Linked DNA regions of Homo sapiens: regions 2, 3 and 4 are each reported to be linked to region 1. Evidence: microRNA targets listed by miRTarBase, many of them from high-throughput screens and not tested one by one. Region 1 holds a microRNA gene; each other region holds the end of a gene's coding sequence.
Evidence for each region. The annotated mature microRNA hsa-miR-6893-3p reads CCCUGCUGCCUUCACCUGCCAG and lies in region 1 at 3,807-3,828, opposite strand. An mRNA with a match to its seed (bases 2 to 7 or 8) in the 3' UTR can be bound and repressed. Matches are read on the target gene's strand: a 7mer-m8 pairs with bases 2 to 8, a 7mer-A1 pairs with bases 2 to 7 and ends in A, and an 8mer does both.

Region 1 (7,117 bases):
CCTCGTGATCCGCCCGCCTCGGCCTCCCAAAGTGCTGGGATTACAGGCGTAAGCTACCACGCCCAGCCTGTTTTTTTCTTTTTCTTTCTTTTTTTTTTTTTTTGAGACGGAATCTCGCTCTGTCACCCAGGCTGGGTGCAATGGTGCAATCTAGGCTCACTGCAACCTCTGCCTCCCGGGTTCAACCAATTCTCTGCCTCAGCATCCCGAGTAGCTGGGATTACAGGTACCCGCCACCACGCCTGGGTAATTTTTGTATTTTTACTAGAGACAAGGTTTCACCATGTTGGCCAGGCTGCTTTTGAACTCCTGACCTTGTGATCCACCCCCTTCGGCCTCCCAAAGTACTGGGATTACAGGCGTGAGCCACCGCGCCTGGCCCCCCAGCTGTTTTTTCTAAACCTCCAAACCTCTAACTCTCTCTGTAGAGCCCCTCAGCGAGTTCAGCCCGAATCTGGGGAGAGGCGAGCTCCTCCCAGCAACCCTGGGACCTTTGGCCTCTGAGGCTCAGTATTTTCTGGGTTCTTCCCCACCTCGTACCTTGGCCAGGTATCGGAATACAGGCTCCATGAGGTCCGAATCACCCTTGCCGGCTGCCACGGAGCTGAGCTCTAAGTGCAGGAGGGTGCCGGCGGGCAGGCTCTGCAGGGTCCTGGCCAGGGCAGGGGCTCCCAGGGCGTTGTAGGACAGGGACAGGGTCTTCAGGTGCTCAGCATCTGCACCGGGGCCAGAATCCGTCAGCCCCACGTGGCCACAGCCCTGTACCCACCCCAAGTTCTGGGCCCAGAACCCTCAGGACCCCTTTGGGGAAACCACTACCGCAGTGCTCGCAGGGTGGGGTGGCAAGTGCAGAGGCAAAGGCTCTCGCCCAGATTCTCCCAGCTGGGAGGGCGGGGCCAGACTTCCAAGCTCGGCTGCCCCCAGTTCTGGACAACTTGCCCTCTCCCACCCCACAACCACACGGTCCTGGGCCACATGCCTCTGCACAGTGGGGGTGCCAGGGGAGTGCACTGACCATTGCTGCCCCCCTTACACTCCCCCTGGATGACACCCAATTCCCAGCCTCTTGGCACTGGGACCCCAGTCTCTGCAGCCTGAGTGGGCTCACAGTGGAACTGCCTCAGGCGAACAGCACTCAGCTGGCGAGCACGGGATGGGGACCACAGGACACTAGCTGCCCGGACTCTGCTCTCGGTGTGTCCTGCGGGGGTCAGCCTGGCTGGGTGGGCACCAGACGCCCCTCGGAGGCAGACCCTGTACCCACACATCCATCTATTGCTCCCAGGTGCCAGGCCCTCCCGGAGAGCCAGGTCTGGCATCCCAGGCCCCTAGACGTTGTTTGTTTCGTTTTTTTGACACGGAGTCTTGCTCTGTCGCCCAGGCTGGAGTGCAACGGCGCGATCTCGGCTCACTGCAAGCTCCGCTTCCCGGGTTCATGCCATTCTCCTGCCTCAGCCTCCTGCGTAGCTGGGACTACAGGCACCGGCCACCACGCCCAGCTAATTGTATTTTTAATAGAGACGGCGTTTCACCGTGTTAGCCAGGATGGTCTCGATATCCTGACCTCGTGATCTGCCCGCCTTGGCCTCCCAAAGTGCTGGGATTACAGGCGTGAGCCACTGCGCCCGGCCTAGACGCTTTTTTCTTAAGGGATGGGGTCTCACTATGTGGGCCAGGCTTTCCTGGAACTCTTGGCTCAAGCGATACTCCCGCCTCAGCCTCTCAAGTAGCTGGGACCACAGGTGTTGCCCCTGTGTGCCCAGCCTGGGCCCCCTCTGAAAGTCCTGGAAACCCTCAATGCCCCAGGGCTAGGGAGTGGACAGGGAGTGCCTGGTCAGCTCACCTTGGAAAGCACTACCCAGTGCTGTCTGGTGGCTCAGAAAGAAGCTGGGGCCGAAGCCACACGCCTGCAGGCGCAGGGTGCTGAGTAAGGGGCAGGCGTGCAGGAGGGAGGCCAGGGACTGGCCACAGCCGTCCCCCAGGGGGTTCATGCTTAAGTCCAGCTCCTCCAAACTCTGTGGAAGACACAGGCTGGCAGTGAGCCCCCAGCAGTCCCACGGACAGGGTCCCCCTTGGGGCTTGGCTTGGCAGTCTCTTCCCCACCTTGCCTGGCATAGCCTATTACAGCCGGGCACTGGCTGGCTCTCCCAACTACCCTAGACCACCCAGGGACCTGCAGAATGGGAACCCCAACTCCCCGCTGTTGAGGGCCTGCTGCTCTCTGTGCCTATACCTGCAAGGTGGCTTGGCCTGGGAGCCCCATGGCAAGCTGGCGCAGGCCTTCGGGACCCAGGTGATTGGAGGAGAGGTCAAGGAGGGCCAGGCTGGGCATGGTGCCCAGGGCAGCCACCAGCTCAGCCACACACTTGTCCCCCAGCCGGTTCCCTGCCAGGCGCAGCTCCCGGAGTGCTGTGTGCAGCTTGAGGGCCCGCAGCAGGGGTGTAAGCTGGGCCTGGTCCAGGGCCAGGGAGCAGGCGCTGAACGAGAGGCCCAAGCCCTGGAGCTCCACGGCCTGCAGCACCTGTTGGTGCTCCCCTGCGGGAGGGATGTGATGTCACCAGGGTAAGGCCGGCCCTTTCTGCCCTCTGAATCCCAGAGGGCAAACCAGGCAGCCCCTTTTCAACAGCCCCAGGGGTCACCCACCAGACTTGCTGTAGAGCCCACTCGCACATGCCTGTGGGTCTAGCACTGTGAGGCCCTGGGGGCCGGGGTGGGTCTGCAGCACCCTGAGCTCCACCAGTCACTGCCAGATTCCACACCCCCCGGGACAAGCTTTCTGGGAAGCTTCCCCAGCAGCTCCCAGCCCATGCCAGGCCCTCCTCCTTGGGTTTGACTTTCCAGGCTTTCGGCTGCTTTTTGCCATCTCCCTGTCAGCAGATCATGGGGGCTGAGGGCTGTCCTCTCCCTTCCACCCACACATCCAAGTGCAGGACACAGCACCCACCAGGCTGGGGGAGGTGCACCCCAAAACACCCGAGGCCCAGGAATGAACCGGGCTGGTGGAGCCTGTGTGCCCAACCCCCTTGTACGACCTCACCCAGAAACTGCAGCTCTCCTGGCCCTCACCTTGCCCCAGGCTCTGGCAGGCCCTGCGGTAGCGGTCAGTCAACGGGGGCAGGTCCCACGAAGTCACCTCAGCCAACACCTGGAAGGCACCGTCATGAGCCACCTGGGGGCTCCCCCGGCTCACCTCATCATTGCTCTGCAGCCATGAGCCACCCGGGGGCTCCCGGTGCCTGAGGCCCTGGCTCCCCCTCCGCTCTGCGGCTCACCTCGTCATTGCTCTGCAGCACATCAGGGATGAGGTCCTGTGGGGCCAGCAGGGCCCCCTCTTTCCGTAGGGTGAGCCTGGGCAGCAGCCCGCAGGTCTGGTAGTAGCGCTGGGCCGCCTGCTCGGCCAGCCAGGCCACAGAGTGGGTGTCACTGCTGCAGGGACAGAGGCGCTGCTGCTGCTGCCTGCACACAGCCGGGGTAATGCCCCAGGGACCCGCCATCCCTGCCCAGGGCCAGAAGCCCCCTCAGCTGCTTCTCCCATTCCCAGGTAGCCGGCCCCTCCTCTCCCTGCAGCCCAGCACACCACCAGCCCCTCTGCTATTCCTGGGGGCCACAGGATCCTCCTGGAACACACCAGGGAGCCCTCGTCACACGCCCCACCCTGACATGCAAACACGAGCACCCTGGCATGGAGCTGCACAGGTGGGCTGCGGGGTAGGGCAGGCGATGCCTCACCTGTGTGGGACAGGGATGAGGAAGAGATGATCCTGAACTTGAACTCGAACCCGGATGGGAGGGGGCGGGGCCGGACCCTGGCAGGTGAAGGCAGCAGGGCTGAGTCAGGAGCCACAGTGGGCTCCACCCTACACCTGCCTGCCCGGAGTGGGGAGAGGGCTCTGCTCCAGGTCTGCATACCCACCAAGGGCTGGCCTGCCGCAGAGCTGTCCCCACTGGGCTCTGAGACCCTGGGGGTGCTGGGGCTCCCTGGAGGTTCTGAAGCCAGGCTGCTGGGCCCTGCGTTAACTGGCGCACTGCAACTCTGCATGCAGGTCAGGCGGACCTGCTTGGCTCGGGCACGGGGCCTGCTCTCCTCACTGTCCGACCCAGAGGTACTACTGGGCCTGCGGTTGTCTCCAGTGCCCCGGGGGCGGGGCCGGCGGCTGCGGGTCAGGGGCATGTCCAGCTCCAGCCAGTCCCCGGCCAGGCACTCCTCCTCCGGGATGAGCGCTGCCTGGGGGGCAAGGGCTTTGCTGTGGCCCCGCGGTGGGCCAGGCCCCAGCCGGCTCTGAGCACTGCCCACACCCCGGATGGCTGCCTGGTAGGCTGCCCGGCTGGTGCTGGCTGTGGCTGCTTCCCTGTTGCTGGCGGGGCCAGGCGTCCAGGCTGCCACCCGTTGTGCTGTGGCCGAGCACCGAGGCCTCTTCTGGGACGGCCGTGCGGGGCCTGCGCTGTCCTCGCCTTCTGAGCTGCTGCTGCTGCTGGCTGGCCCATGCCTGCTCCTCCGAGGCCTGGCCATGGCTGGTGCCGCCTGCCCTGGGGAGACCCTGACATGGGCCTGAGAGGCCTCTGGGAGTCTAGTGCTATTAGAGGGGGGTTCTGGGCAGGGGCTCAAAGGAGGAGAGGTCTCGGGGTCAAACAGAAGGCTGCTTGGGGTGTGGAAGGCCTGGGAGCTGTGGGGATCTGTGGGAGAGAGAATGCGTGTTGAGGCAGGGGCCCGGCACCTCCCGCTCCACCTGTGATGGAGCATCTCCCGAAATCAGGGCCCGGGGACTCTCAGCGTAGGCACAGCAACCCCAGGGACAAGGGACGCCCTGCTTGCCTTGGCCCGAGGCAGCCGCCTGGAGCAGCATCTCCATGGCCCTGGCCTTCTGCCGCGTCTCCAGGTCCAGGTCCCTGCGGTACAGCTTCACCCACTGCTGCAGCGTCTCCAGCGGGCTGAGGCCCTGTGTGGCATCAGTTGAGCAGGGGCACAGCAGCCCCCATAACCTCGCCCTTGCCCTCTGCCCCACCAGGCTCACCTTTCGAGTGCGGAGGGTGACGGACGCCCCCCGTTCAAGCAGCAGCTCAGCCACCTCGAAGTGGCCACAGTTGAGGGCATCGTGGAGGGGGGTGATGCCTTCGCAGCCCTGGCCACCTGGGTCGTCCACTGCGGCCCCGTGGTCCAGCAGGAAGCGGACAATTTCTGCAGACCAGGAGACGTAAGCCCAGCTCCCGATGCCCCGCCAGGACTGACTCTTCGCCCCACGTGTCCACCAAGGTGCGCCAGGCTCCTTCTGTCCCTTGCTCACCTAGATGCCCGTAGTTGCAGGCCTCGTGCAGAGGTGTCCAGCCACAGTAGTCCCGAGGGTTAAGGGGGTGGCCCTGTGACCAAGGACAGGAAGGAGCCTGGCCCTGTGTACCTCACAGCCTGGCCCCAGCCCCGTGAGCTCTGCAGCCTAAGCTGAGCCCAGGGCCTCAGTCTTAGAGCCCAGAGCAAGTCCGTGGCCCTGCCCTCTCCTCCTCCGGCCTAGGTGTCACCAGTGAAGGACATGCTTCCCCCTGAGACAGGTGGACCAGCCACAGCATATCCTCCGCCTCTGTGCCTGCCCGGTCCCCTTGTGGGGAGACAGTGCACCTGGTCGCAGGGGCATGAGGCAGGCGGGGCGGGAAGGTGCCCAGATCTCAGCCCATGGGCTAGCCCCCATCCTGGCCAGGCTGACCAACTTAGCTGTAACACAGATGCATACCACACAGCAGGTACCCCATTTTTTTTTTGAGACCAGCCAGGCTGGTCTCAAGCTCCTGACCTCGTGATCTGCCCACCTTGGCCTCCCAAAGTGCTGGGATTACAGGTATGAACCACCGCGCCCAGCCTGGGCACCCCATTTTTTTGTGTTTTTTTTTGAGACAGAGTCTCGCTCTGTCACCCAGGCTGGAGTGCAGCGGCGCAATCTCATCTCACCGCAACCTCCGCCTCCCAGGTTCAAGCGATTCTCCTGCCTCAGCCTCCCGAGTAGCTGGGACTACAGGTATGTGCCACCATACCCAGCTAATATTTTTGTATTTTTAGTAGAGACAGGGTTTCACCATGTTAGCCAGACTGGTCTCAAACTCCTGACCTCAGGCAATCCGCCCGCCTCAGCCTCCCAAAGTGCTAGGATTATAGACATAAGCCACTGTACCCGGCCTGTGGCTTTTCTTCTGAGACAGGGTCTTGCTCTGTCACACAGGTTGGAGTGCAGTGGCAAGATCATGGCTCACTGCAGCCTCCACCTCCTAGGCTCAAGCAACCCTCCCACCTCAACCTCCAAAGCAGCTGAGACTACAGGCACACGCCATCACATCCACCTAATTTTTAAATTTCTTGGAGACAAGGTCTTGCCAGGGTGCCCAGGCTGGTCTCGAACTCCTGGGCTCATGTGATCTGCCTGCCTTGGCATCCCAAAGTGCTGGGATTACAGGCATAAGCCACCCCGTGCAGCCTCCGCTTTTTAAATTTTTTTGAAACAGGGTCTCACTGTGTTGCCCAGGCTGGAGTGCAGTGGCATGATCGCGACTCCTGCAGCCTCAATCTCCCTCCCAGGATGAAGTGATCCTCCTGCCTCTAGGACCACAGGCAAGTGCCACCATGCTTGCTAAGGGGCCCCATTTTGAAGATGAGGAAGTTGAGAGTTACAGAGATAGGGGATCCGGCACAAACGCACAGCTCCTCCATGCTAGGCAGCCTGTCCCACGTCCCAGAGCGGGGCCCACCTGCCTCACAAGGTCCTGGACGCGGCGCAGCTGGCCCTCGATGCAGGCTCGGTGCAGCAGGGTCTCCCCCATGTCGTTTCGCCGGTTCCACTGTGGGCACAGCCAACCCAGCACAGGGCAGGGGCGTGAGGAGCTGGCAGGGCTGCTGAGCGGGGTGGGTGGGGGCAGGGCACTGTCCTCACCTTGCTCCCCTTCCGCCGGCCCAGGTGGCCCTGAAGCTCCTCGTCCTCCTCCAGCTGCGGGGTCAGGCCATCGGTGTCGTCCTCTGGAACAGAGCCAAGCCCACCCCAGGGGAGTCCGTGGGAGGTGAAGGTTAGCAGCCCCCACCCTGCTGCAAGCTCCCCAAACTCCCAGGTACAAAGGAGCCAGAGACGGGAGGGCTGAGCTCTGA
Region 2 (7,107 bases), not on the chromosome of region 1:
CCAACATGGAGAAACCCCATCTCTACTAAAAACGCAAAATTAGCCGGGCGTGGTGGCGCCTGCCTGTAATCCCAGCTACTAAGGAGGCTGAGGCAGGAGAATCACTTGAACCCAGGAGGCAGAGGTTGCAGTGAGCTGAGATCATGCCATTGCACTCCAGCCTAGGCAACAAGAGTGAAACTCTGTCTCAAAAAAAAGAAAAGAAAAAGCCAGGGTCCTCTCCAAAGCCCACCAGGCCCTGCACAACCACCCTCACCTTCCCCACTACTGTTTCTCTCCCCCTCTAGCCACACTGGCCTTATTGCCACACCCCTCTGCACTTATCCCAGGGCCTTTGCACGTGCTGTTTCCGCTGCCTGGAATGCTCTTCCCTGCTCGCTGGCTCCTTGATGCCGTTCACAGTCAGCTGAGAACTCACCCTCCCTGACCAGCCACTGTCCACCCTCATTCCTTTGCATCCCTCACCCCCGGTGAACATCCTCAACCACAGTCATGAGTTTGCTTCTTCAAGGCGGTGCCCCCAGATCGCCACCTCCTTGGGGCCAGGGGCCACGCCTCCCTCCTGCTTACCCATCATATCTACCAGGCCAGCCACCACGTTGGCGCCTCGGGGGATTGGAAAGGATCCCAAACAAAAAGAATTCTGCTTCTCTGTTTCAGTTTGCCCCAATGTCAGATGACGAGAGCCCTACATCATCCTCGGCAGAAGAGTAGCCGTGAGGGAGGCGGGGACCAGCCAGACCGGGAGCAAACCGTCCCTTGTCCCCGTCTCCTCCCTGTTCCCGTTCCTCCCTGGCCCACCCCACTCACACTCCCCAAGGCCCACGGCTCAAAGGCAAGCGAGCTCTCCCTCTGCTTCCCTGGGGGAGCCCCGACGGCCACAGGACTCCAGCTCCAAGTGGGTTTTCTTGGCTCCCCTGTTCAAAGTGGCCACAGCGCAGACCGAAGCAAAATTCTTGTATACATTGGCGCCAGGGCTGATGCTGGGGTGTGGGTTTTATGAAGAACATTGAGAACAATCAGCTGGTAATTATGGATGGAGGAAGAGGGAGAGGAAAAAAATATTGTATTTTTGAATCATTGTTGCAGGAGGGGGTGGGAATCTTAGGATTTGTTGCCAGATTTGAAAGTCACTGGAACTTGCATATTTTCATTTTAATCCTAAGTGTTATTACGCACCAGTTGGGGTTCACCCTTCATCCCCCACATTTAATTGTCTGATATAGAATAGTGTTGTGTCCACTGCCCCGCTAGACGGCTTTCTTAGGGGAATTTTCTTCTGGTTGTTTCACAAGACAGATTCTGTCCTTGTCACCCGGGACAGAAAACTCAGTCTTTTCACCCTCATTCAGATGAAGGGACTCAGGACAGGCTCTGTGACTTACAGGGACCCAATCAATTCACAATGAGAAATTACCGGCCAGGCGTGGTGACTCACGTCTGTAATCCCAGCACTTTGGGAGGGCAAGGCAAGAGCTTGAGCTTGAGCCTAGACGTTAAAGACCAGCCTGGGCAACACAGCAAGACCCATCTCTACAAGAAATTTAAAAACTAGCCAGGCGTGGTGGTGCGCGCCTGTAGTCCCAGCTACTTGGGAGGCTGAGCCCTGGAGGTCGAGGCTACAGTGAGCTATGATCACACCATTGCACTTCAGCCTGGGCGACACAGCGAGACCCTGTCTCAAGAAAGAAAAGAAAAAGAGACAAATTACCCAGAAACCCCTCCCTTCCCCACATGGAGGCCTTGGCAAATGTTAATTTTCCTAGAAAATCCTTCAGACCTGAAGACGCAGGAAAAGAATCTGGCTCTCAGGGTGGCTTCTGCGTCCCCGCCGCCAGGCCCCAGACTATGGTCACAGGGCCGTCCTGTTCCTCCCCGGGACTCCAGAATTTCTCTCCTCAAAGGAAAGAAAACAGGGCATGCGCTTGTTGGCAAAACGCAGGGCCGGCTCCCAAAAACCCCATGTGTGTACGATTAAAAGTTGGCCGTCCCCAGGCCTCCCAGCGCAAACTTCAAGAGACAGGGCTTTGCTGAAAACCAAACATGGGCCAGCTGGGCTTTTTAACAACCTAGAGACTTTCCGGAGCTGCCTGGAACAGAGCCTGCGGGAAACGGGGCTTGCCAGAGACACTCACAGTTTCCTTCATGGCCTGTTTTGGTCCCCTAAGAATCTCCACATCATTGTCTTTCTTGTGCCTTTTCCTTGGTGAGCAACAGAAAGGGAAGGGTTCCAAGCCTCTAAAAATGTGCTTTGTGATCAGGAGTGCGCTCCAAACCAAATACGCGCGCTGCCCTTTCGAGGCCAGTGAGCTCAGCCTCCAAGGCTTTAAAGCCACATTTCAGCAAGAGAAAGCGCTGAGAGCTCGCAGGTTCATTAAAGAAGGCAAAGCACTGGTTTCTCTCCTTAGAAAAGTAGGTTTCTTGGCTTGATGTAGACTGGCTTGCTTTGATTTTTAGTGAAGGGAATGTACGTAAAACAAAATAGGGCTTGGCTGGTCAAAGGAGACAAGCAGGATGGATGGATGGATGGATGGATGGATGGATGGATGGATGGATGGATGAATAGATAGATGGTGTTTGCATGTAAATTGCAGAGAAAACAAAACCAAAGCTGATTGGAAACAATTAATTGTGGGTGTCTGAGGGGGAAGGTCGCAGCTTTGGGCAGCTTTGAGAAGCGGTACAAGAGTTCTGTGCCTGTGTGTCCAGCCCTGGAGCCAGCCAGTGCATTTATTTTAAGCTCTTAGAAGCAACTCCTTGGCCCAGGAATGCGTGACCCCTGAGATGGGTCCACGCATCTCTCTACACTTCCTTCTCTCCGTGGGATACTGGACTCGTGCCTCTGCGCCCATTCTCTTCTCACGCATATCCATGAGCTTTAATTTCACTTTCTGATCACGGTACGTCCATAAAGCCAGTATTACACTTAAATGAAGTATTCTTTTTTGTAATCGTTTTTTTTAGAAGGTAAACAAATTTAATAAAGCTACCAATAATGTTGATGATTCTGTGTCTTTTCTTTTTTCGCTGTGCTCCCTTTTAAGCTTTAAGATAGATATCTTTCCTTTTTTTTTTCTTTTTTCTTTTTTTGAGACGGAGTTTTGCTTCTCGTCACCCAGGCTGGAGTGCAGTGGCGCGATCTTGGCTCAGTGCAACCTCTGCCTCCTGGATTCAAGTGATTCTACTGCCTCGATTCTCCCAAGTAGCTGGGACTACAGGTGCCCACCACACTCGGCTAATTTTGTATTTTTGGTAGAGACGGGGGTTTCGCTATGTTGGTCAGGCTGGTCTCAAACTCCTGACCTCAGATGATCCACGCGCCTCAGCCTCCCAAAGTGCTGGGATTACAGGTGTGAGCCACCACTTTTTGTTTTTGGAGAGTCTCACTCTGTCTCCCAGGTTGGAGTGCAGTGGTGCGAATCATAGCTCACTGCAGTCTCTACCTCCAGGGTTCAAGCGATCCTCCCACCTCAACCTCCCGACTAGCTGGGACCACAGGCTGCGCCACCACCCCTGACTTTTTGTTGTTGTTGTTGTTGTTGATACGGAGTCTCCCTCTGTCTCCCAGGCTGGAGTGCAGTGGTGTGATTTAGGCTCACCGAAACCTCCGCCTCCTGGACTTAGGCAATTCTCCTGCCTCGGCCTCCCAAATAGCTTGGATTAGAGGCACCCACCACCACACCCAGCTAATTTTTGTATTTTTAGTAGAGATGGGTTTTCACTATGTTGGTCAGGCCAGTCTTGAACTCCCGACCTTGATCAAGTGATCCACCCGCCTCGACCTCCCAAAGTGCTGGGATTACAGGCGTGAGCCACTGCGCCTGGACTAATTTTTAAATTTTTTGTAGAAACGGGGTTTTGCTATGTTGCCCAAGCCACTCTCCCACCTCGGCCTCCCAAAGTGCTGGGATTACACACGTGAGCTGCTGCAAATCTCTTTTTCAAAATGGACTTATTTTGGAGAGTGTTCAAAGCTACAGAACAGTTGCAAGAATATCACAGTAAACACCTTCATGCTCTGTCCTAGACCAGCACCCAACAATAGTGTAGCCGCTAGCTACATGTGGCTATTTTCATTTAAAAGTACATGAGGCCGGGCGCGGTGGCTCGCGCCCGTAATCCCAGCACTTTGGGAGGCTGAGGCAGGTGGATCACCTGAGGTCAGGAATTCAAGACCAGCCTGGGCAACATCGTGAAACCCTGTCTCTACTAAAAATACAAAAAATTAGCTGGGCATGGTAGCGGGCATCTGTAGTCCCAGCTACTCGGGAGGCTGAGGCCAGAGAATCACTTGAACCCAGGAGGCGGGGGTTTCAGGGAGCTGAGATTGCCCCACTGCACTCCAGCCTGGGTGACAGAGCAAGACTCCATCTATAAATGAATGAATGAATTAATTAATTATAATTAGCAGGCTTGGTGGCTTGTGCCTGTAGTCCCAAGCTACTCAGGAGGCTGAGGCGGGTGGGAGGATCACTCGAGGCCAGGAGTTCGAGGCTGCAGTGAGCTATGATTGTCCCACTGCACTCCAGCCTTGGTGACAGAGTGAGACCTTGTTTCTAAAAAAAAAAAAAAAAATCTTAAGTAAATGAATTATGCCTGGCGCGGTGGCTCACGCCTATAATCCCAACACTTTGAGAGGCTGAGGCAGGTGGATCATTTATGTTTGAGGCCAGCCTGGCCAACATGGTGAAACCACATCTCTACTAAAAATAGAAAAAAATTAGCTGGGCATGGTGGTGCATGCCTGTAATCCCAGCTACTGGGGAGGCTGAGGCATGAGAATCACTTGAACATGGAAAACGGAGGTTGCGGTGAGCTAAGATTGCAGCACCGTACCCCAGCCTGGGCGACAGTGAGGCTCCAACTCAAAAATAAGTAAATAAATAAAGTCAATGAATTATAATTAGTTCTCGATAGCTTTACGTGGTTGGTGGCTACTGTATTGACTTGCAGAGATACTGAATATTGCCATCGTACAAAGTTTTGTTGAACACCTGCTGTGAACACCTCAGGAAAAAAAAATCAATCTTTTTCTTTCTTTTCTTTTCTTTTTTTTTTTTGAGACAGGGTCTCACTCTGTTGCCCACCAGGGTAGAGTGCAGTGGTGCGATCATAGCTCACTGCAGCCTCAACCTCCGGGGCTCAAGCAATCTTCCCACTTCAGCCTCCAGAGTGGCTGGGACTACAAGTGTGTGCCACCATGCCTGGCTAATTTTTTTTATTTTTTGTATAGACGGAGTCTCTCTATGCTGCCCAGGCTGGCCTCAAACTTCTGGGCTCAAGCGATCTCCCCACCTCAGCCTCCCAATGTGCTGGGATCGTAGGCATGAACTACTATGCCTGGCCTAAAACTTGGCTCTTCGGTGACTTTTGTATTCTAATGCCAAATAATTTATAGCGATTTATTATAAAAGTCAAAATTCAGCCGGGCACAGTGGCTAACCCCTGTAATCCCAGGACTTTGGGAGGTCAAGGTGGGCATCACCTGAGGTCAGAAGTTTGAGACCAGCCTGATCAATACGGTGAAACCCTGCCTCTACTAAAAATACAAAAATTAGCCAGGTGCATTTGCACACGCCTGTAATCCCAGCTACTCAGGAGGCTGAGGCATGAGAATCGCTTGAACCTGGGAGGCACAGGTTGCAGTGAGCCGAGATTGTGCCACTGTGCTCCAGCCTGGGCAACAGGGAGACTCCGTCTCAAAAAAAAAAGTTAAAATTCGAGCCGGGTGCAGTGGTTCACGCCTGTAATCCCAGCACTTTGGGAGGCCAAGGCGGGTGGATCACCTGAGGTCGGGAGTTCGAGACTAGCCTGACCAACATGGCGAAACCCTGTCTCTGGCCGGGCGTGGTGGCTCACGCCTGTAATCCCAGCACTTTGGGAGGTCAAGGCGGGTGGATCACGAGGTCAAGAGATCGAGACCATCCTGGCCAACATGGTGAAACCCCATCTCTACTAATAAATACAAAAAATTAGCTGGGTGTGGTGGCGTGTGTCTGTAGTCCCAGCTACTCGGGAGGCTGAGGCAGAAGAATGGCGTGAACCCGGGAGGCAGAGTTTGCAGTGAGCCAAGATCGCACCACTGCACTCCAGCCTGGGTGACAGAGTGAGACTCCGTCTCAAAAAACAAAAAAAAGGCCAGGAGTGGTGGCTCACGCCTGTAATCCTAGCGCTTTGGGAGGCCAAGGCGGGCACATCACGAGGTCAGGAGCTCGAGATCATCCTGACTAGCACGGTGAAACCCCATCTCTACTTAAAAAAATACAAAAAATTAGCCAGGCGTGGTGGTGGGCACCTGTAGTCCCAGCTACTGGGAGGCTGAGGCAGGAAAATGACGTGAACCCGGGAGGCGGAGCTTGCGGTGAGCCGAGATCGCACCACTGCACTCCAGCCTGAGCGACAGAGTGAGACTCCATCTCAAAAAGAAAAAAATAAACCTTGTCTTTACTAAAAATACAAAATTAGCCGGGTGTGCTGGCACACCCCTGTAATCCCAGCTACTCAGGAGGCTGAGGCAGGAGAATTGCTTGAACCTGGAAGGTGGAGGTTGTGGTGAGCCGAGATCACGCCATTGCACTCCAGCCTAGGCAACAAGAGAGAAACTCCATCTAAAAATAAAAATAAAAATTCAAACAATACAGCAGTGTTTAGTCCTTGCAGCATGCCATAATCCCACTTGGTAGGAATACCATTGTCAACAGTTTGGAGCATCTCCTACCAAATCTTTTTCTAATATATTTGGTCTTAATTTTTTTTTACAGTTCTTTTTTCTTCAGGTATAAAATGAATACATTCTGTGCACAAATGGTGCACAAAAGTGTACAGTTCCTTCCATGGCTTTTTTGCAAACGGCACCCCCAAGTTGCCGGCACCAGAACTGGAAAAGGAATATCATTGGCCCTAGCAGCCCACGGGCCCCTCCCCTCAGATCTCCCAGCGGTAATCATATCTCCTGACTTCTCATTTCCTCTGTTTATCCACTAGGCTGTTCAGTCAGGAGATAACAGAAGGTTTTTGGAAGACCCAGAAATGTTATGCTAAGGAGTGTATTTCTAGGCAGAAGGTCCATTACTCGTGTCAGTTTCCTCTGGCTTTGTGAGCCAAGAA
Region 3 (7,102 bases), not on the chromosome of region 1:
CATGCCTGTAATCCCAGCACTTTGAGAGGCCGAGGTGGGTGGATCATGAAGTCAGGAGATCGAGACCATCCTGGCCAACAGGGTGAAACCCTGTCTCTACTAAAAATACAAAAATTACCCAGGCATGGTGGCATGCGCCTGTAGTCCCAGCTACTTGGGAGGCTGAGGCAGGAGAATCACTTGAACCCAGGAGGCGGAGGCTGCAGTGAGCTGAGATCCACGCCACTGCACTCCAGCCTGGCAACAGAGCAAGACTCCGTCTCAAAAAAAAAAAAAAAAAAAAAAAAATTAGCCAGCCGTGGTGGTGCACGCCTGCAATCCTAGCTACTTGGTTGGGAAGCTGAGGCAGGAGAATTGCTTGAACCCAGGAGGCGGAAGTTGCAGTGAGCCGAGATCGCGCCACTGCACTCCAGCCTGGGCGAAAAAGAGACTGACTCAACAACAATAAAAAATTGTTGCCGGGTGCAGTGGCTCACACCTGCAATCCCAGCACTTTGGGAGGCCGAGGCGGGCGGATCACCTGAGGTCAGGAGTTCGAGACAGCCTGACCAACATGGGAAACCCCGTCTCTACTTAAAATACAAAATTAGCAGGGTGTGGTGGTGCATGCCTGTAATCCCAGCTACTTGGGAGGCTGAGGCAGAGGTTGCAGTGAGATGAGATCGTGTCATTGCACTCCAGCCTGGGCAACAACGTGAAACTCCGTCTCAAAAAAAAAAAATTGTTTCATTGTTGAATAAAAAGAAAAATAAGTTATGTCATTGGTGGACAGAATCAACTTATATCTGAATAAAATAACTATACCAATTAAAACTAAAGTAGGCCAGGCGTAGTGGCTCACGCCTATAATCCCAGCACTTTGGGAGGCCAAGGTGGGTGGATCATTTGCGATCAGGAGTTTGAGACCAGCGTGGCCAACATAGTGAAACCCTGTCTCTACTAAAAATACAAAATTAGCCAGGCAAGGTGGTGGGCACCTGTAGTCCCAGCTACTTGGAGGATTGAGGCAGGAGAATCGCTTGAACCTGGGAAGCAGAGGTTGCAGTGAGCTGAGATCACACCACTATACTCCAGCCTAGGCAAGAGTAAGACTCCATCTCAAAAAAAAAATAAAAATAAAAATAAAATAAAAACAAAAACTAAAGTTAAAAGGTCTGGTATACTGAACTGGTAAACTAATTACAATTTTGCTTTCCAACCTCCTCAAGTATTTAAAAGACCCAACTCAGCCCATCTTAGAGGCCTTGGACAAGGACAGCTCACCAAAGGATGACGTCTGGGACTCTGTGTCCATTATCTCGTTTCCGGAAAAGGAGCAAGAAGATGTTCTCCAAACGCTTTGAACCAAAGCATGGGCCTAGCCCACTGGCTCCCTGGAAGAGATCAAGCCATCGGAGCTGCTAGAGTTCTGTCTGGACTTTCCAGAGACCAGTATTCCCTTTTGCTGCCTCTAAAAGGCCTGTCCCTGCAGACATGAGAGACAGCAGGTCTCATGGGGGTGACAAGCTTTTTTTTTTTTTCTTAAAGAATTTTCAAAATCAAATTCCAGAATGATTTTACGGAGATATCCCAGGAAAATTAAGGCTTCTCTTAAACACTAAAAAGGCATGTAATTGCTTGTTAGCAAAATGGATATGACACATCTCTGATACTTTTTTCATTATTGGTTGGGCTGAGCAGTCAGAAGACCTGGTCGTCGTCTTGACTTTGGCAAATGAGCCGGAGCCCCTTGGGCAGGTCACACAACCTGTCCCAGCGAGGGACACCGAGTGGCCCTTCATGTACATCCATGGTGTGCTGGCTTAAAATGTAATTAATCTTGTAAATATACTCCTAGTAATTTAAGATTTTGTTTTTAAACTGGAAATAAAAGATTGTATAGTGCATGTTTTTTAAAGTCTATGTGAAGTGTTTTCTTTATTGTAGCCTATTTTCTGCAGAGTTTCAGCTTTCTAAAATTACTCAATCTAAACTTGTTTTTTCTTAAATAACACCTGCTAGAGCTACTGAGGCCTCATGGGAACTCAGCAAACACTTCCTATGGATGTCACTTGATCCTCCAAAGGTTATAAAGAAGGCCAGGGCCTAGTGCAGTGGCCCACGCCTATAATCCCAGCACTTTGGGAGGCTGAGGTGGGTGGATCACTTGAGGCCAGGAGTTCTAGACCCACCTGGGCAACATGGTGAAACCCTGTCTCTATGAAAAATGCAAAAATTATCCAGGCATGATGACATGCACCTGTAGTCCCAGCTACTTGAGAGGCTAAAGTGGGAGGATGCTTTAGCCTGGGAGGCGGAGGTTACCATGAGCCGAAATGATGCCACTGCACTCCAGCGTGGGAGGCAGAGCGAGACCCTATCTCAAAAAAAAAAAAAAAAAGAGGGCTGGGCATGGTGGCTCATGCCTGTAATCCCAGCACTTTGGGAGGTCAAGATGGGAGGATCGCTTGAGGCCAGGAGTTTGAGAACAGCCTGGGCAACATAGTGAGACCTTGTTTTCACAAAAAATAAAAAATTAGCTAGTCGTGGTGGTGCACACCCGTAGTCCCAGCTACTCAGGAGGCTGAGACCAGAGGATCATTTGAGCCTAGGAGTTAGGAGTTCAAGGCTGCAGTGAGCAATGATTACACCACTACATTCCAGCCTTGGCAACAGAGCAAGAGACCCTGTCTCAAAAATATAAAAGTTATAAGGGGGATTTGCAGAAGGCACATTAGCACTTCATTTATATGTGACAAGTCACACTGTGTTGACCAAGGCAGGGATTTGTGGGCAATAAAGAGAATTAACTGATTAATCAATAGTAATGTTATCTACTGAGCACGCAAGTCATCTGATTGTGTCAGTACTGTCGGGCTCTGTTGTTCAAAGGATATGTATTTAAAATCCATTTATAGGCTGGGCACGGTGGCTCACACCTGTAATCCCAGCACTTTGGGAGGCCGAGGCAGGCAGATCACCTGAGGTCAGGAGTTCGAGACCAGCCTGGCCAACATGGTGAAAGCCTGTCTCCACTAAAAGCACAAAAATTAGCTGAGTGTGGTGGCAGGCACCTATAATCCCAGCTACATGGGAGGCAGTTGGGGCCCTGTACTGCTGGTAAGAAAGTGGCTTTTTTTTTTTCTTTTGAGACAGAGTCTCACTCTGTCGCCCAGGCTGGAGCGCAGTGGCGCGATCTCAGCTCGCTGCAACCTCCACCTCCCAGGTTCAAGCAATTCTCCTGCCTCAGCCTCCCGAATAGCTGGGATTACAGGCGTGCACCACTATGCCTGGCTAATTTTTGTATTTTTAGTAGAGATGGGGTTTCACCATGTTGGCCAGGCTGGTCTCGAACTCCTGACCTCATGATCCACCCACCTTGGTCTCCCAAAGGGTTGAGATCACAGGCGTGAGCCACCGTGTCCGGCAAAAGTGGCTAACTCTCTTAAGTGTTGTGTACCATGCTGTCTGCAGTGGCAAGAGTTAGAAAAACAAGGCCCACTCCCACCCCATGCACACAAGTCTCCCTGTGAAGCATCTGTTGTATGCATTAGGTGCACCTTAAGTAGACAAGTTTGGAGGAAGAAGTTGTAGATAGGAGTTGTAAAGACTTACCTTAGACCGTTCAGGAAATCGGAGACAGAAGAGCTTCTTCTGTTGGGCAGCAGGATGGTGGCCAGCGAGGAGTGGAGGATACATCTATAGCAGGAGAACAGGAAAGAGTTTCAGCCCAGCAGGACAGAGGGCAAATCAACTCTGTTAGGGTAAGTGCATCTGTGCCACCCCATTTATTTATTTAGAGACACAGTCTCACCCTGTTGCCCAGGCTGGAGCGCAGTGGCACAATCTCACTTCACTGCAACCTCTGCCTTCCGGGTTCAAGCGATTTTTGTGCCTCAGCCTCCAGAGTAGCTGGGATTACAGATGTGCGCCACCACACCCAGCTAATTTTTGTATTTTTAGTAGAGATGGGGTTTCACTATGTTGGTCAGGCTGGTCTCAAACTCCTGACCTCAGGTGATCCGCTCACCTCAGCCTCCCAAAGTGCTGGGATTACAGGTGTGAGCCACTGTGCCCAGCCTTAAATAGTATTTTCTGAAATGAAATGCCTCATTCTCCTTAGTAAAATAAATGACTAATTGATGGGATTAGTATTTACACTGTCAAGGCCAGGCGCAGTGGCTCACACCTGTAATCCGAGCACTTTGAGACCCTGAGGTGGGTGGATCATGAGGTCAGGAGTTTGAGACAAGCCTGGTCAACATGGCGAAAACCTGTTTCTATTAAAAATACAAAAATTAGCTGGGCGTGGTGGCTCACACCTGTAATCCCAGCTACTTGGGAAGCTGAGGCAGGAGAATCACTTGAGCCCGAGAAGCGGAGGTTGCAGTGAGCTGACATGGCACCTCTGCACTCCAGCCTGGGCAACAGAGCAAGACTCTGTCTCAAGAAAAATAAAGTCAAGCTAAGTACATTGTCAAAATTTTTGAGTTGGAAGCACTCTTATAAATAATCCGTTGACAGGGCATAATCCATAACCTACTTGCCAAATCAGCCCATTCCCTGTTTTTGTAAAACCCGTGTGCTAAGAATAGCTTTTACATCTTGGAATAGTTAAAGTCAAAAGAAGAATATTTCATCACACATGAAAATTCTATGATATTCAAATTTCACTGTTCATAAATATTTATTAGAACCCAGAAGGTAAGCTGCGTGTAGTGGTTCACACCTGTAATCCCAGCACTTTGGGAGGCTGAGGTGGGCGGATCATTTGAGGCCAGGAGTTTGAGACCAGCCTGACCAACATGGTGAAACACCGTCTCTACTAAAAATACAAAAATTAGCTGGGCATGGTGGTGCATGCCTGTAATCCCAGCTACTCAGGAGGCTGAGCGAAGGGAATTGCTTGAACCTGGGATGCAGAGGTTGCAGTGAGCAGAGATCGTGCCACTGCATGCCTGGTGACAGAGCGAGACTCTGTCTCAAAAATAATAATAAAATAGGCCGGGTGCGGGGGCTCACGCTTGTAATCCCAGAACTTTGGGAGGCTGAGGCAGGAGGGATCATGAGGTCAGGAGTTTGAGACCAGCCTGACCAACATGGTGAAACCCCGTCCCTACTAAAAATACAAAGATTAGCTGGGCGTGGTGATGTGTGCCTGTAATCCCAGCTACTCAGGAGGCTGAGGCAGGAGAATCACTTGAACCTGGGAGGCAGAGGTTGCAGTGAGCCAAGATTGCACCACTGCACTCCACCTGGGCGACAGAGCAAGACTCTGTCTCAAAAAATAATAATAAAATAAAATAACGTCTCTGTCCATAGTGTTTAAATCACATAAAATGGACTTCTGGCAGGGCACGGCGGCTCACACCTGTAATCCCAGCATTTTGGGAGGCTCAGGTGAGCGGATCGCCTGAGGTCAGGAGTTCAAGATCAGTCTGGCCAACAAGGTGACACCCTGTCTCTACTAAAAATACAAAAATCAGCCCAGCGCAGTGGCAGGTGCCTGTAATCACAGCTATTCAGGAGGCTGAGGCAGGAGAATCGGTTGAACCCACAAGGTGGAAGTTGCAGTGAGCCCAGATGACACCACTGCACCTCAACCTGGGCAACAGAGCAAGAATCTGTCTCAAAAAAAAAAAGGACTTCTTGGTACATAACATTTAAAGAAGCCTGCATAGTCACTATGGCCACTATGTCTTTGAAGTGCCACAACAGAGAGAGGCTCTCTGAAAGGAAATGATACTGATTTGGGAATAGGGTATTACAAGGGGAACACGTGTGCCAGAGTAAACTATGTACATATTTAGGAAGGTGAAGGAAAACAAAGGTTCTTAAAGGAAAAAATGAGGATTAGATCACTGTTTTAAGATAATTATCCTTGGCTATAAGGATCAATAGCAAGGGGGATGCCATTCCAAGGTTAGACAGGCAGTTGTTGGGCAGATGTCCTCATAGAAGTGTTTGTTGTGTAAGGCGGTGAAGGGCTTTGTGCAAGGTTGAGATTTTTGCAGTCTTTTGTGATCATTTTTATTTATTTATTTATTTAGAGACAGAGTCTTGCTCTGTCACCCAAGCTGGAGGGCAGTGATGCAATCACAGCTCACTGCAACGTCTGCCTCCTGGATTCAAGAAATTCTCCTGTCTCAGCCTCCTTAGTAGCTGGGACTACAGGCATCCGCCACCATGCCTGGCTAATTTTTTGTATTTTTAGTAGAGATGGGATTTTGCCATGTTGCCCAGGCTGGTCTTGAACTCCTGACCTCAAGTGATCCACCTGCCTCAACCTTCTAAAATGCTGGGATTACAGGCATGAGCCACCACGCCCGGCCTTGTGATCATTTTTGTTATCAAGCATTTTTGCATGAGAATCCTTCATGGCCTTCCCCAGCTCTATTTGTCAGGGTTTTTTATTTGTTTGCTTGTTTGTTTGAAGCACAAGTGACTCCATTTTGATTCTGACAACTTCCACACTATGCAGTCACATCTCTGAGGCGCCCAGAGCCCTTCAAAATATATTTGCTGTTTGCCAAATAGTCTCTATTTGAGATGAGAACATCCCCAGCTGTCCTTCTGTTTGATGAGAAGTGAGACTCCACCCCAGCAGCTTCCGGAGATGCAGTCATGCCTCCCCACCCTTCACTGCCACTCCCAGCCTCCCTTGAGACTCAAGGACTGTCCCACGGGAATGAAGTGAAAGTGACGTCTTTCTCCTTGTTTCCAGTCTGTGGTGAGGGAAAACAGCTGGCTACGCTTGAGAGGGTATGGAAACTGGTCAGAGTGGTTACTTGGGACCTGGGGCCTCAGAGCCACCCGTTGCTAAGGAGAGGACTCTGGTCAGGGCAACTTGCCAATGCTCTAGGAATGACACCTAGACATTCCTAAAAAATGATAGCCTAAAAATTCATCCCATTGTAGAAATACAGGCAGCACTAGCTTCTCTGGGCCCCTCAGTTATCAAAAAAAGAGGAGGGAGGCAGACCCTCAGGGTTACTTTACATCCATATACCTAGCTACAACATAAACATCAAATGATATGTGGCCAGGCGCGCTGGCTCATGCCTGTAATCCCAGCACTTTGGGAGGCAGAGGCAGGCAGATCACTTGAGGTCAGGAGTTCGAC
Region 4 (7,117 bases), not on the chromosome of region 1:
CCTCCTAAAGAGGAATAGTAGAGAGTTTCCACCCATATGTAAAGAAGTGGTGTCAGTGGAATATCATGGTACAGGAGCAATATTTTGAAATGTCTTGTTGCTGGTTAAATACAGGGAACGCCAATACAAGGAAGCAAGCTTCGACTTCCAGGATATTTATCAGGGAAAGGCTTCCACTCTGGGGAGGACAGTGGCTTGATAACAACTGCAGCTGCCAGAGTCCGAACACAGTTTGCTGGTGAGTGTGGTGCCTTTCTTTTTTCAATGGCTTTTGCAGCATGGTCATCTGAGGATTAAAGTCCCTTTTCCTCCTCATTGGGGAAGAAATTACAAATTGACCCTGAGGTAGTCTTAAAATGATATGTAGCCCCAGTCCTCCAAAAGTTGGGGATAAAGTGAGTCATGGGTGCAAGTGTCTAAAAGTGTCCAAGAAAGATGAAAGAATTACTGTACAACAGAGGAAAATATACAGTGGTATTCTACCCCTTCAAGCTGAAAGATTTTGGCTCTTCTGCCAGCTCAGCGATTGCACAGGGCCCTGTTTTGGGGTGGTTGGAAGAACCCAGCCACACTGAGCCTCACACCAGTGTAGCTCACATTGCTTCGCAAAATAATGAACCTACTAATCTCTGGGTTCTGAGCTCAGCAAGCAAGAAGCCTCTTTAAAGTTTCCAATCTCATCTGTTGAATTCCTACATTCTTGGAGTTACCTATTCTTGGGCAAGACTTAAACCTGTCTTGTTTGTTCTATGTTTGCATCACACGCATCCCTGGAGGCATAATTTAAACTTTAGAAAGCACAATCTTAAAGGATAGGTATATTCCTTATGTCTGTTTGCAATAAATGGAATCCTGTTTTAAGTAGGGGAAGCCGAAACTTACCTTGTAGTTGGAAATCTAGCCTTTTCTATATTATGTCTACTTAGAGTAAGCCTGCATACCCTTGTGTAATAGAGAAAGGCTGTGAATCCACAACTGTTTTCTGAGTGCCTACTACACACCAGGAAAAAAAGTTAAGATTAAAGGTGGCATCGGGTTTCAAAAATTAGTTGCAGATGGACCCAATAATAAGGGTGAGCTGTCTCTACCTTCTTTCCTCAGATTCCAAGAAGACTCCCAGCCGACCAGGAAGTCGAGCTGGAAGCAAAGCTGGCAGCAGGGCCAGCAGCCGCCGAGGCAGTGATGCATCAGACTTTGACATTTCAGAAATCCAGTCCGTGTGCTCAGATGTGGAAACTGTCCCCCAGACACACAGACCTACACCCCGAGCAGGTTCTCGGCCATCCACAGCGAAGCCTTCAAAAATCCCCACGCCCCAGAGGAAATCACCTGCCAGCAAATTGGACAAGTCCTCAAAGAGATAGTGCAATTGGTTCTACCAAGGCCCTTCCTTGAGCATTTATTATTTAAGTTTGAACGATGTAAAATATGGTGTAGAAATTCTTGTGAAATATTGCAAGAGGCGAGTTTAAAATTCTGCAGATGGCCTTATTTGTGTATTTGTCTTTTTATTTTATCTGTATAATTTTTTTTGTCAGATATTCTGGGGTTAAAGTCACATCATATGTGAGGAGGAAAAGTTTAACATGAACTAACATTTCTGCACTGTAACGTGCCGGGCACACACTAAACTCAGTTACTGTACCTACAGGTAAGTCTACATCCTCTCTGACAGCCACAGCACTACATCAATCCCTGACGTTAGGGATACCTCATGACATTTTCCTGTTTTTATGGAAACTCTGAGAAGCTGAATGATACATGCAGGGGATATTTTTTGAGATGATTTAAATGTAAACCAAAAGATGGAAGACAAAAAGACAAACACACCCACACGCAGTCTTTGCAGTATCTGACAGAGAACTCACAGGAAGTTACTTCAAGCACTTGCCAGTACTATGATATTCAAGTACCTTGCAGCATTTCTCTGCCATTGCTTTCAATGAGGCCAGAGGCATCCTGGATATTAGACCTATTATACTGTAAGAATATAAGTATAAAGTGCGTTCATATACATGTGAGGTTTTCTTTTGCTTGAGTGGACAGTAGCACCTGTATCATTGAACTCATTTTGTATCAGAGCAATTTTGCTTGCAGAAAGCTATGAAATAAAACACGTCCCTTAACTGCATTGCTATGGAATTAATTTTTTTTCCCCAGGGAAAACTAGTGTATTTTTTTATGAGCAATATCAATTTGGAGTGACCAAAAGATACTTAAAAATGGGTTTATTTTGATTTCTCATCTGAAATAATCATGTTCTGGTATTATATCTATCTATATTTAATAAATATATACATTTTAATTTATTATGTGTACTCACATACTATAGAAAGATATTAGTATGCATTTAATAAAACATATTCACTTGAATATATGGAATACCTGATTATTTAAAGTGAACTTCTTCTATTATTTGTTTTAAATAAAGGTTATATGTATGATATATGTTTACTAAGAAACAAATAGGGTAAATTTGGGGGACATCAAAAACAGGGAGTTATAATAATGTTAACCACTCTTTCAACAAATATTTCTAATAAGTATTAGCCATGCACCAGCCATTGTAAGTGACATGAAACTATAAGGTTCCTGCCCTCCCCTCTTCAAGAGGGAATCAGTTAATAAGTCACTAAAAAGCAAGGGATGTGTGGCAGGATTACAGATTTAATTAAGGTAATATAGTAGTATTCTTCTGGCCTCTGTACATTTAAAAGTCAAATTGTAAAATTTTCCTGAATATGAAAATAGTATCAGATATCCTCAGAAGGATGGCAGGTTGTAACTTTAGGTATGAGGGTCCCAACATTCTGCATAACTTTGTGGATTTGCTGTAGCAAATGTCACTGATGGTGTTCAGATTCAAGGGAACATTATTACATTTTTCTTTCTTGGCCTTTTCAGTGGAGGCCAACACTGAAGAGCCTGGAGTTTCTATTGGCATAAATTAGGTGCTATTTTTAAGCAATAGTAATCCCTTCTTTGTCCAGGCATGGGTCTCAGGTGGGAGCCCTTGATGAGAAGGGGAATTCTAACCTATGAGATCACATGCTATTTAGTTCATGCATTTGATTATTAACATGTCATCTTAGAAGGCAATTGAAATTGTTTTTATTCCTTTAGTGCTTTGCATATGATCACATTTCCACTTCAAAGACAAATTTAAGGCAATGATTTTTATCTCAGTCTGTTTCTATGCTACCCCTCCGAAAGAGCTAGGGGTTTTTCTTTTTAAGTAGTAAAATAAGCTTTTTGGAAAAGATAAGTGGTTTAAAATAAGAGAAGTCTTAAGGAACTGCTCCCAGTTGTCAGTATTTGCCCCAGGTGAGCTTTTCAAACTTTGACATGATGCCTACTCATTTCTTTCCTCTTGTGCTAATAGTCCTAGAGCCTCAGGCTGACTTCTCTAGTGTCCTGTAAGTTTCAGTTAATGTAACAGAAACCTCTTCCCCACCCTACACACATTCCTTCTCTTTTCTTTTTCTCTTTCTTTTTTTCGTTTTTTTTTTTTTTTTTTTCTTTAAAAAAAAGAACACTACAGTGAATCTCAACTCTAAAAATCTTAATTGGAAAAATTGAATCTTAAGCATTAGGGAAGTTGAATCGTGGACTTTTTTTGTTTTAAAAATCAAAGCTCCTAATTCGCATGTACTGCTACCTTCTTTGGAAATAGTGGACTGTCCTCTTTGACATCCGTGCAGAAGTAGATGGGCCTGGCCAAGTCTCGGATATAGGTGGGAGAGTTTGGGAAGTGCCCCCATGGCTGTCCGGGATTGACCTGTAAAATGAAAAGGAGGCGGAGGAGAAGAAAGGATCTTGTTTCCTTTTTTGGATCATTTTAAAAGTTGCTTTCCGTATTTGTAGTAAGGGAAATTGTAATGAGATACAGTTATCTATTCCTTTTTGACAAGGTGCTTTGAAATGTGTGTTTTTATTGTTAAATGGTGATCTGATACCACCAAACAGTACATTTGCCATGCCTGCTTGTCTGTGTATGTCTGATGCCACTGCCACTGGGGTCCCACAAAGAAGGCAAAGACACTTGAGCTTTGTCTTTTAGTATAATACTTTAGTAACTAAGGTCCTTTCAGGCATGTTGAGGATGGACTTGTCAGTTACCAAAATCTGCTTGGAAGTCAGTAGAGTAAAGGACAAGGTGTTTGGGCAGGAAATAGTTTGTATGACTATTTGAAATATCTGACTTAACCTACCAAACTCTGCAACTTTGGTTGATTTTATGTAACTCTTAACGTCTATGTAGATGTTGAGTGTCTAGCTAGGGTGAAGTATAACAAAAATAGGTTTCTTTTTTTTCTTGCTACTACTTCTCATGTGCTAAGTTAAGAATATATGTAAAGCAAAGTGTGTTAAGGGAATAATATTAGTTTACCCACATTTTTATCATACTTCATTATTGCAAATTAAAAGACTTTAACAGAGAAGAAAATAAAATAGAGGTTAAGAAGTTTTCAACAATTTCCCCCAAATAAAAATAAAACATTCTTTTAGAATGTTACTAATCTTAAAGTACAGTTATTTTTGCCCCAGCGCAAAGACTAGGAAATGTAGTTCCCACAGCCTTAGACTCCAACTTCTATGCCAATGGCCTCTAGACTTCTTGGTTGGCATCTTCTTATCAGTAAAAGTTTTTCTGTGCAAACACCCCCATATATATATATATTAATTTATCCCAAGATATTATTTGCACATATTTTATCATTAGCTAATTTCTCAGGGCTCACTCTAATCTTAAAATTTATCCTAACAACATTGGTGTACATCCTTAGTTCAAATAGTCTTCATAATTATTTTGGCCAAGTTTTTGCCAAATCAGATGAGACTCTTTCTGGTTTAACTCCTGGTGTGGCTGAGTTTTGCCAAATCAGATGAGATTCTCTCTGGTTTAACGCCTGATATTTAACTCCTTTGTTCTAGGAGAAGCGTTGTCTCTGCCATTTTTCTTATTGCTTGTTTGTTTCTTGCATTATAAACATCTTAAATCCACGGTTCTGTTGCAGGGATCTGTTTAAGCCTTTTTTTTTTTTGTAAAGATTATTTAATTCAGAAGAGTTAATAAAAATCTGTACATTCACCCAACTTGACATAAATAAACTTCGGTTTGCTGCATGCTAAAAGCAACCCAAAGAGTGTGGGAACTGTTGGGACTTCCACTCTGCCCTTGGGTCACCTAAGCTACAGATCGTGAGAAGATGCAAACGATGTCGATGTCACTGGAGAGATGGTAGCAGTGTCAGTCTGTAGTAAATGTTAGTAAAGGTAATTTCCTCCTCTTTTAAGATGAAATGTAAATATAAATAGACATTTTCTTCCAACATTCTATGAAGTTACTTTACATAATCTAATTTTAGGGATCATTGTTCTATACTATTTTCTTCTTTCTGCCTCTTCTCAACCATCTTTTTCCAGAGAATGGAAGTATGCTGTAAAGTTTCTTCCTTTCTCCTCTGATACTAGTTTTGCAAGGGCATGCACACCTGTGCTAGTGGTTATATCACTGATTGCCGGTTCTCTGAAAATTCCAGTTGAGGGAGGCTGAGGGGACATACTAACATTCTTGAAGCCTCAGTTCTAGTTCCAGCCCTTGTTACCTCTCACTTGTATTACTACAACGACCATCTGTTGATTTCCTCATTTTCAATGTCTTCTCCTCTAGACATCAGCTTGGAGGAACTGGTCTTATGGGGAAGGACGTGCCTTTTGATATGAAGGACTGGAGGAAAGGGAGATTGAAATGGGAGAAGAGACATTGAGGGAGTTACCCTGCACTCTTTATTTATCTCAGTAAATTGGAAGACAGATTTTTGACTTGACCAGAGAAGGTTAGAAGTAGCCAAGGCCCTGGACTGATAGTTATCCTGGCCTCCAGTGTATGGCCTGGTTTAGGAAGAGAGGTGACAGAAAGTTCATTGATCTACAGTTGGTTTCTTCAGTCAGGCTCAACAGAGCAATGGAAGGAAGCGGGGGCTCTAGGATGGGCTTTTACCTCAGAAGCAGGTTTTAGGGTACCCAGAGGAAAGGATTTGGGAGGAAGGCACACCGTGGGTGAGTATTTGGGTCAGAGTGGTAGAAAGCTAGAACACTATGCTTGCACACACAGGAGTGTGTATATGATCAAGAGTGACTTATATTTGGGGCATTATCTAAAATTTGCAAGAATGTGAACTTCGGGAGCCTCAGCGTTTTTTTAAATATTAGTCTTAGCTGTTCCAAGTCTTCATTGATTTTTATTGTGCTTATAGCAGAATCTGCATGGAGAAAGCAATAATAGTCCCTAGAGTGAGGGAGAGAGTACAAGAGCCTGCCTTTCAGCTGCAGTTGGTTGTGCTTCAAAGCCCCAAGTAGGCTTAGCGGTATGTGTGTGTGTAGCTCTGGCTTTTCAAGGAGGCAGAAATATAGTGTTTTGGTATATACTTTCAGAAATGTCTCTGGGCATGAGTTAAAAATGAATTAACATAAAGACCATTTCTGAAAGGAGGGCCAACCAGGAAGACAAATGTACATAGCTGTGTTTTTAATTATCCAGTGTAGGAAAATTTGTTTCAAAAATAACCAGCCAATGGACATATGTCCCGGTCAGTAGTCTCGTCACAGCATACTTGCTTGAGAATGGACCAGTGAATTCAGAGGAATATAATAGGCTTGGAGCAATGTTTTCTTAGACTTTACAGTGCCATATCTGATCATGGATTAATTTTGAGTTGTTTCTCTTGGGCAACCTTTTGTGTCTTAGCCACTTCATTATGCTCATAGTGATTTTTTGAAGCCCTACATTTATGTGTCAATTTTGGTTTATAAAGCTCTAATTCTCATACAAGGTTTTCAACCAGCCAATGAAATAGTAAATAAATATCACTTGAATTGTATAAATAATTTTAATGAAGCTAGAGAGGTTTTTATTTGTCCAGGATCACACAGCTAGAAAATGACTGAGTAGATAGATCTTTTCAGGCTGAGACCAATGATCATTCCACTGCCCCTCACCCTTATACCAGGGCTTATGCATTCTTTTCTAAAAAGATGGTAACTTCATAAGGAAGACATGTTCATGGCCTCTTTCAGGAAGCTATACCACATCTGGATTTTCCAGAGTAGCAAA

Region 2: miRTarBase lists KANK2 as a target of hsa-miR-6893-3p. Seed matches in the 3' UTR shown: 7mer-A1 at 2,509-2,515.
Region 3: miRTarBase lists IFNGR2 as a target of hsa-miR-6893-3p. Seed matches in the 3' UTR shown: 7mer-m8 at 1,482-1,488.
Region 4: miRTarBase lists DST as a target of hsa-miR-6893-3p. The part of its 3' UTR that is shown has no 7-base or 8-base seed match.

What each region holds. Positions count from the first base shown.
Region 1 is chr8:144,431,745-144,438,861 of GRCh38, forward strand. MIR6893 (microRNA 6893) reads right to left here and starts at 3,875; the gene lies at 3,807-3,875. It overlaps TONSL (tonsoku like, DNA repair protein), which reads right to left. Exons shown (of 26, transcript NM_013432.5): 12 at 6,909-6,991; 13 at 6,727-6,816; 14 at 5,283-5,355; 15 at 5,013-5,176; 16 at 4,814-4,937; 17 at 3,914-4,674; 18 at 3,730-3,806; 19 at 3,273-3,426; 20 at 3,067-3,145; 21 at 2,234-2,535; 22 at 1,844-2,015; 23 at 541-716. TONSL-AS1 (TONSL antisense RNA 1) reads left to right here and starts at 3,424. Exons shown (of 6, transcript NR_109770.1): 1 at 3,424-3,696; 2 at 5,007-5,251; 3 at 5,955-6,002; 4 at 6,484-6,589; 5 at 6,933-7,038.
Region 2 is chr19:11,160,165-11,167,271 of GRCh38, reverse strand. It overlaps KANK2 (KN motif and ankyrin repeat domains 2), which reads left to right. Exons shown (of 13, transcript NM_001136191.3): 13 at 661-3,002. The coding sequence ends at 714. Among named protein-coding and RNA genes, the nearest start is that of SPC24, 7.9 kb to the right of the region's middle. RefSeq lists an enhancer at 526-1,026.
Region 3 is chr21:33,435,620-33,442,721 of GRCh38, forward strand. IFNGR2 (interferon gamma receptor 2) reads left to right here. Exons shown (of 7, transcript NM_005534.4): 7 at 1,209-1,897. The coding sequence ends at 1,343. It also overlaps a transcript of TMEM50B not described here. Among named protein-coding and RNA genes, the nearest start is that of IFNGR2, 36 kb to the left of the region's middle.
Region 4 is chr6:56,453,252-56,460,368 of GRCh38, reverse strand. It overlaps DST (dystonin), which reads left to right. Exons shown (of 104, transcript NM_001374736.1): 103 at 115-238; 104 at 1,102-2,373. The coding sequence ends at 1,364. Among named protein-coding and RNA genes, the nearest start is that of COL21A1, 210 kb to the right of the region's middle.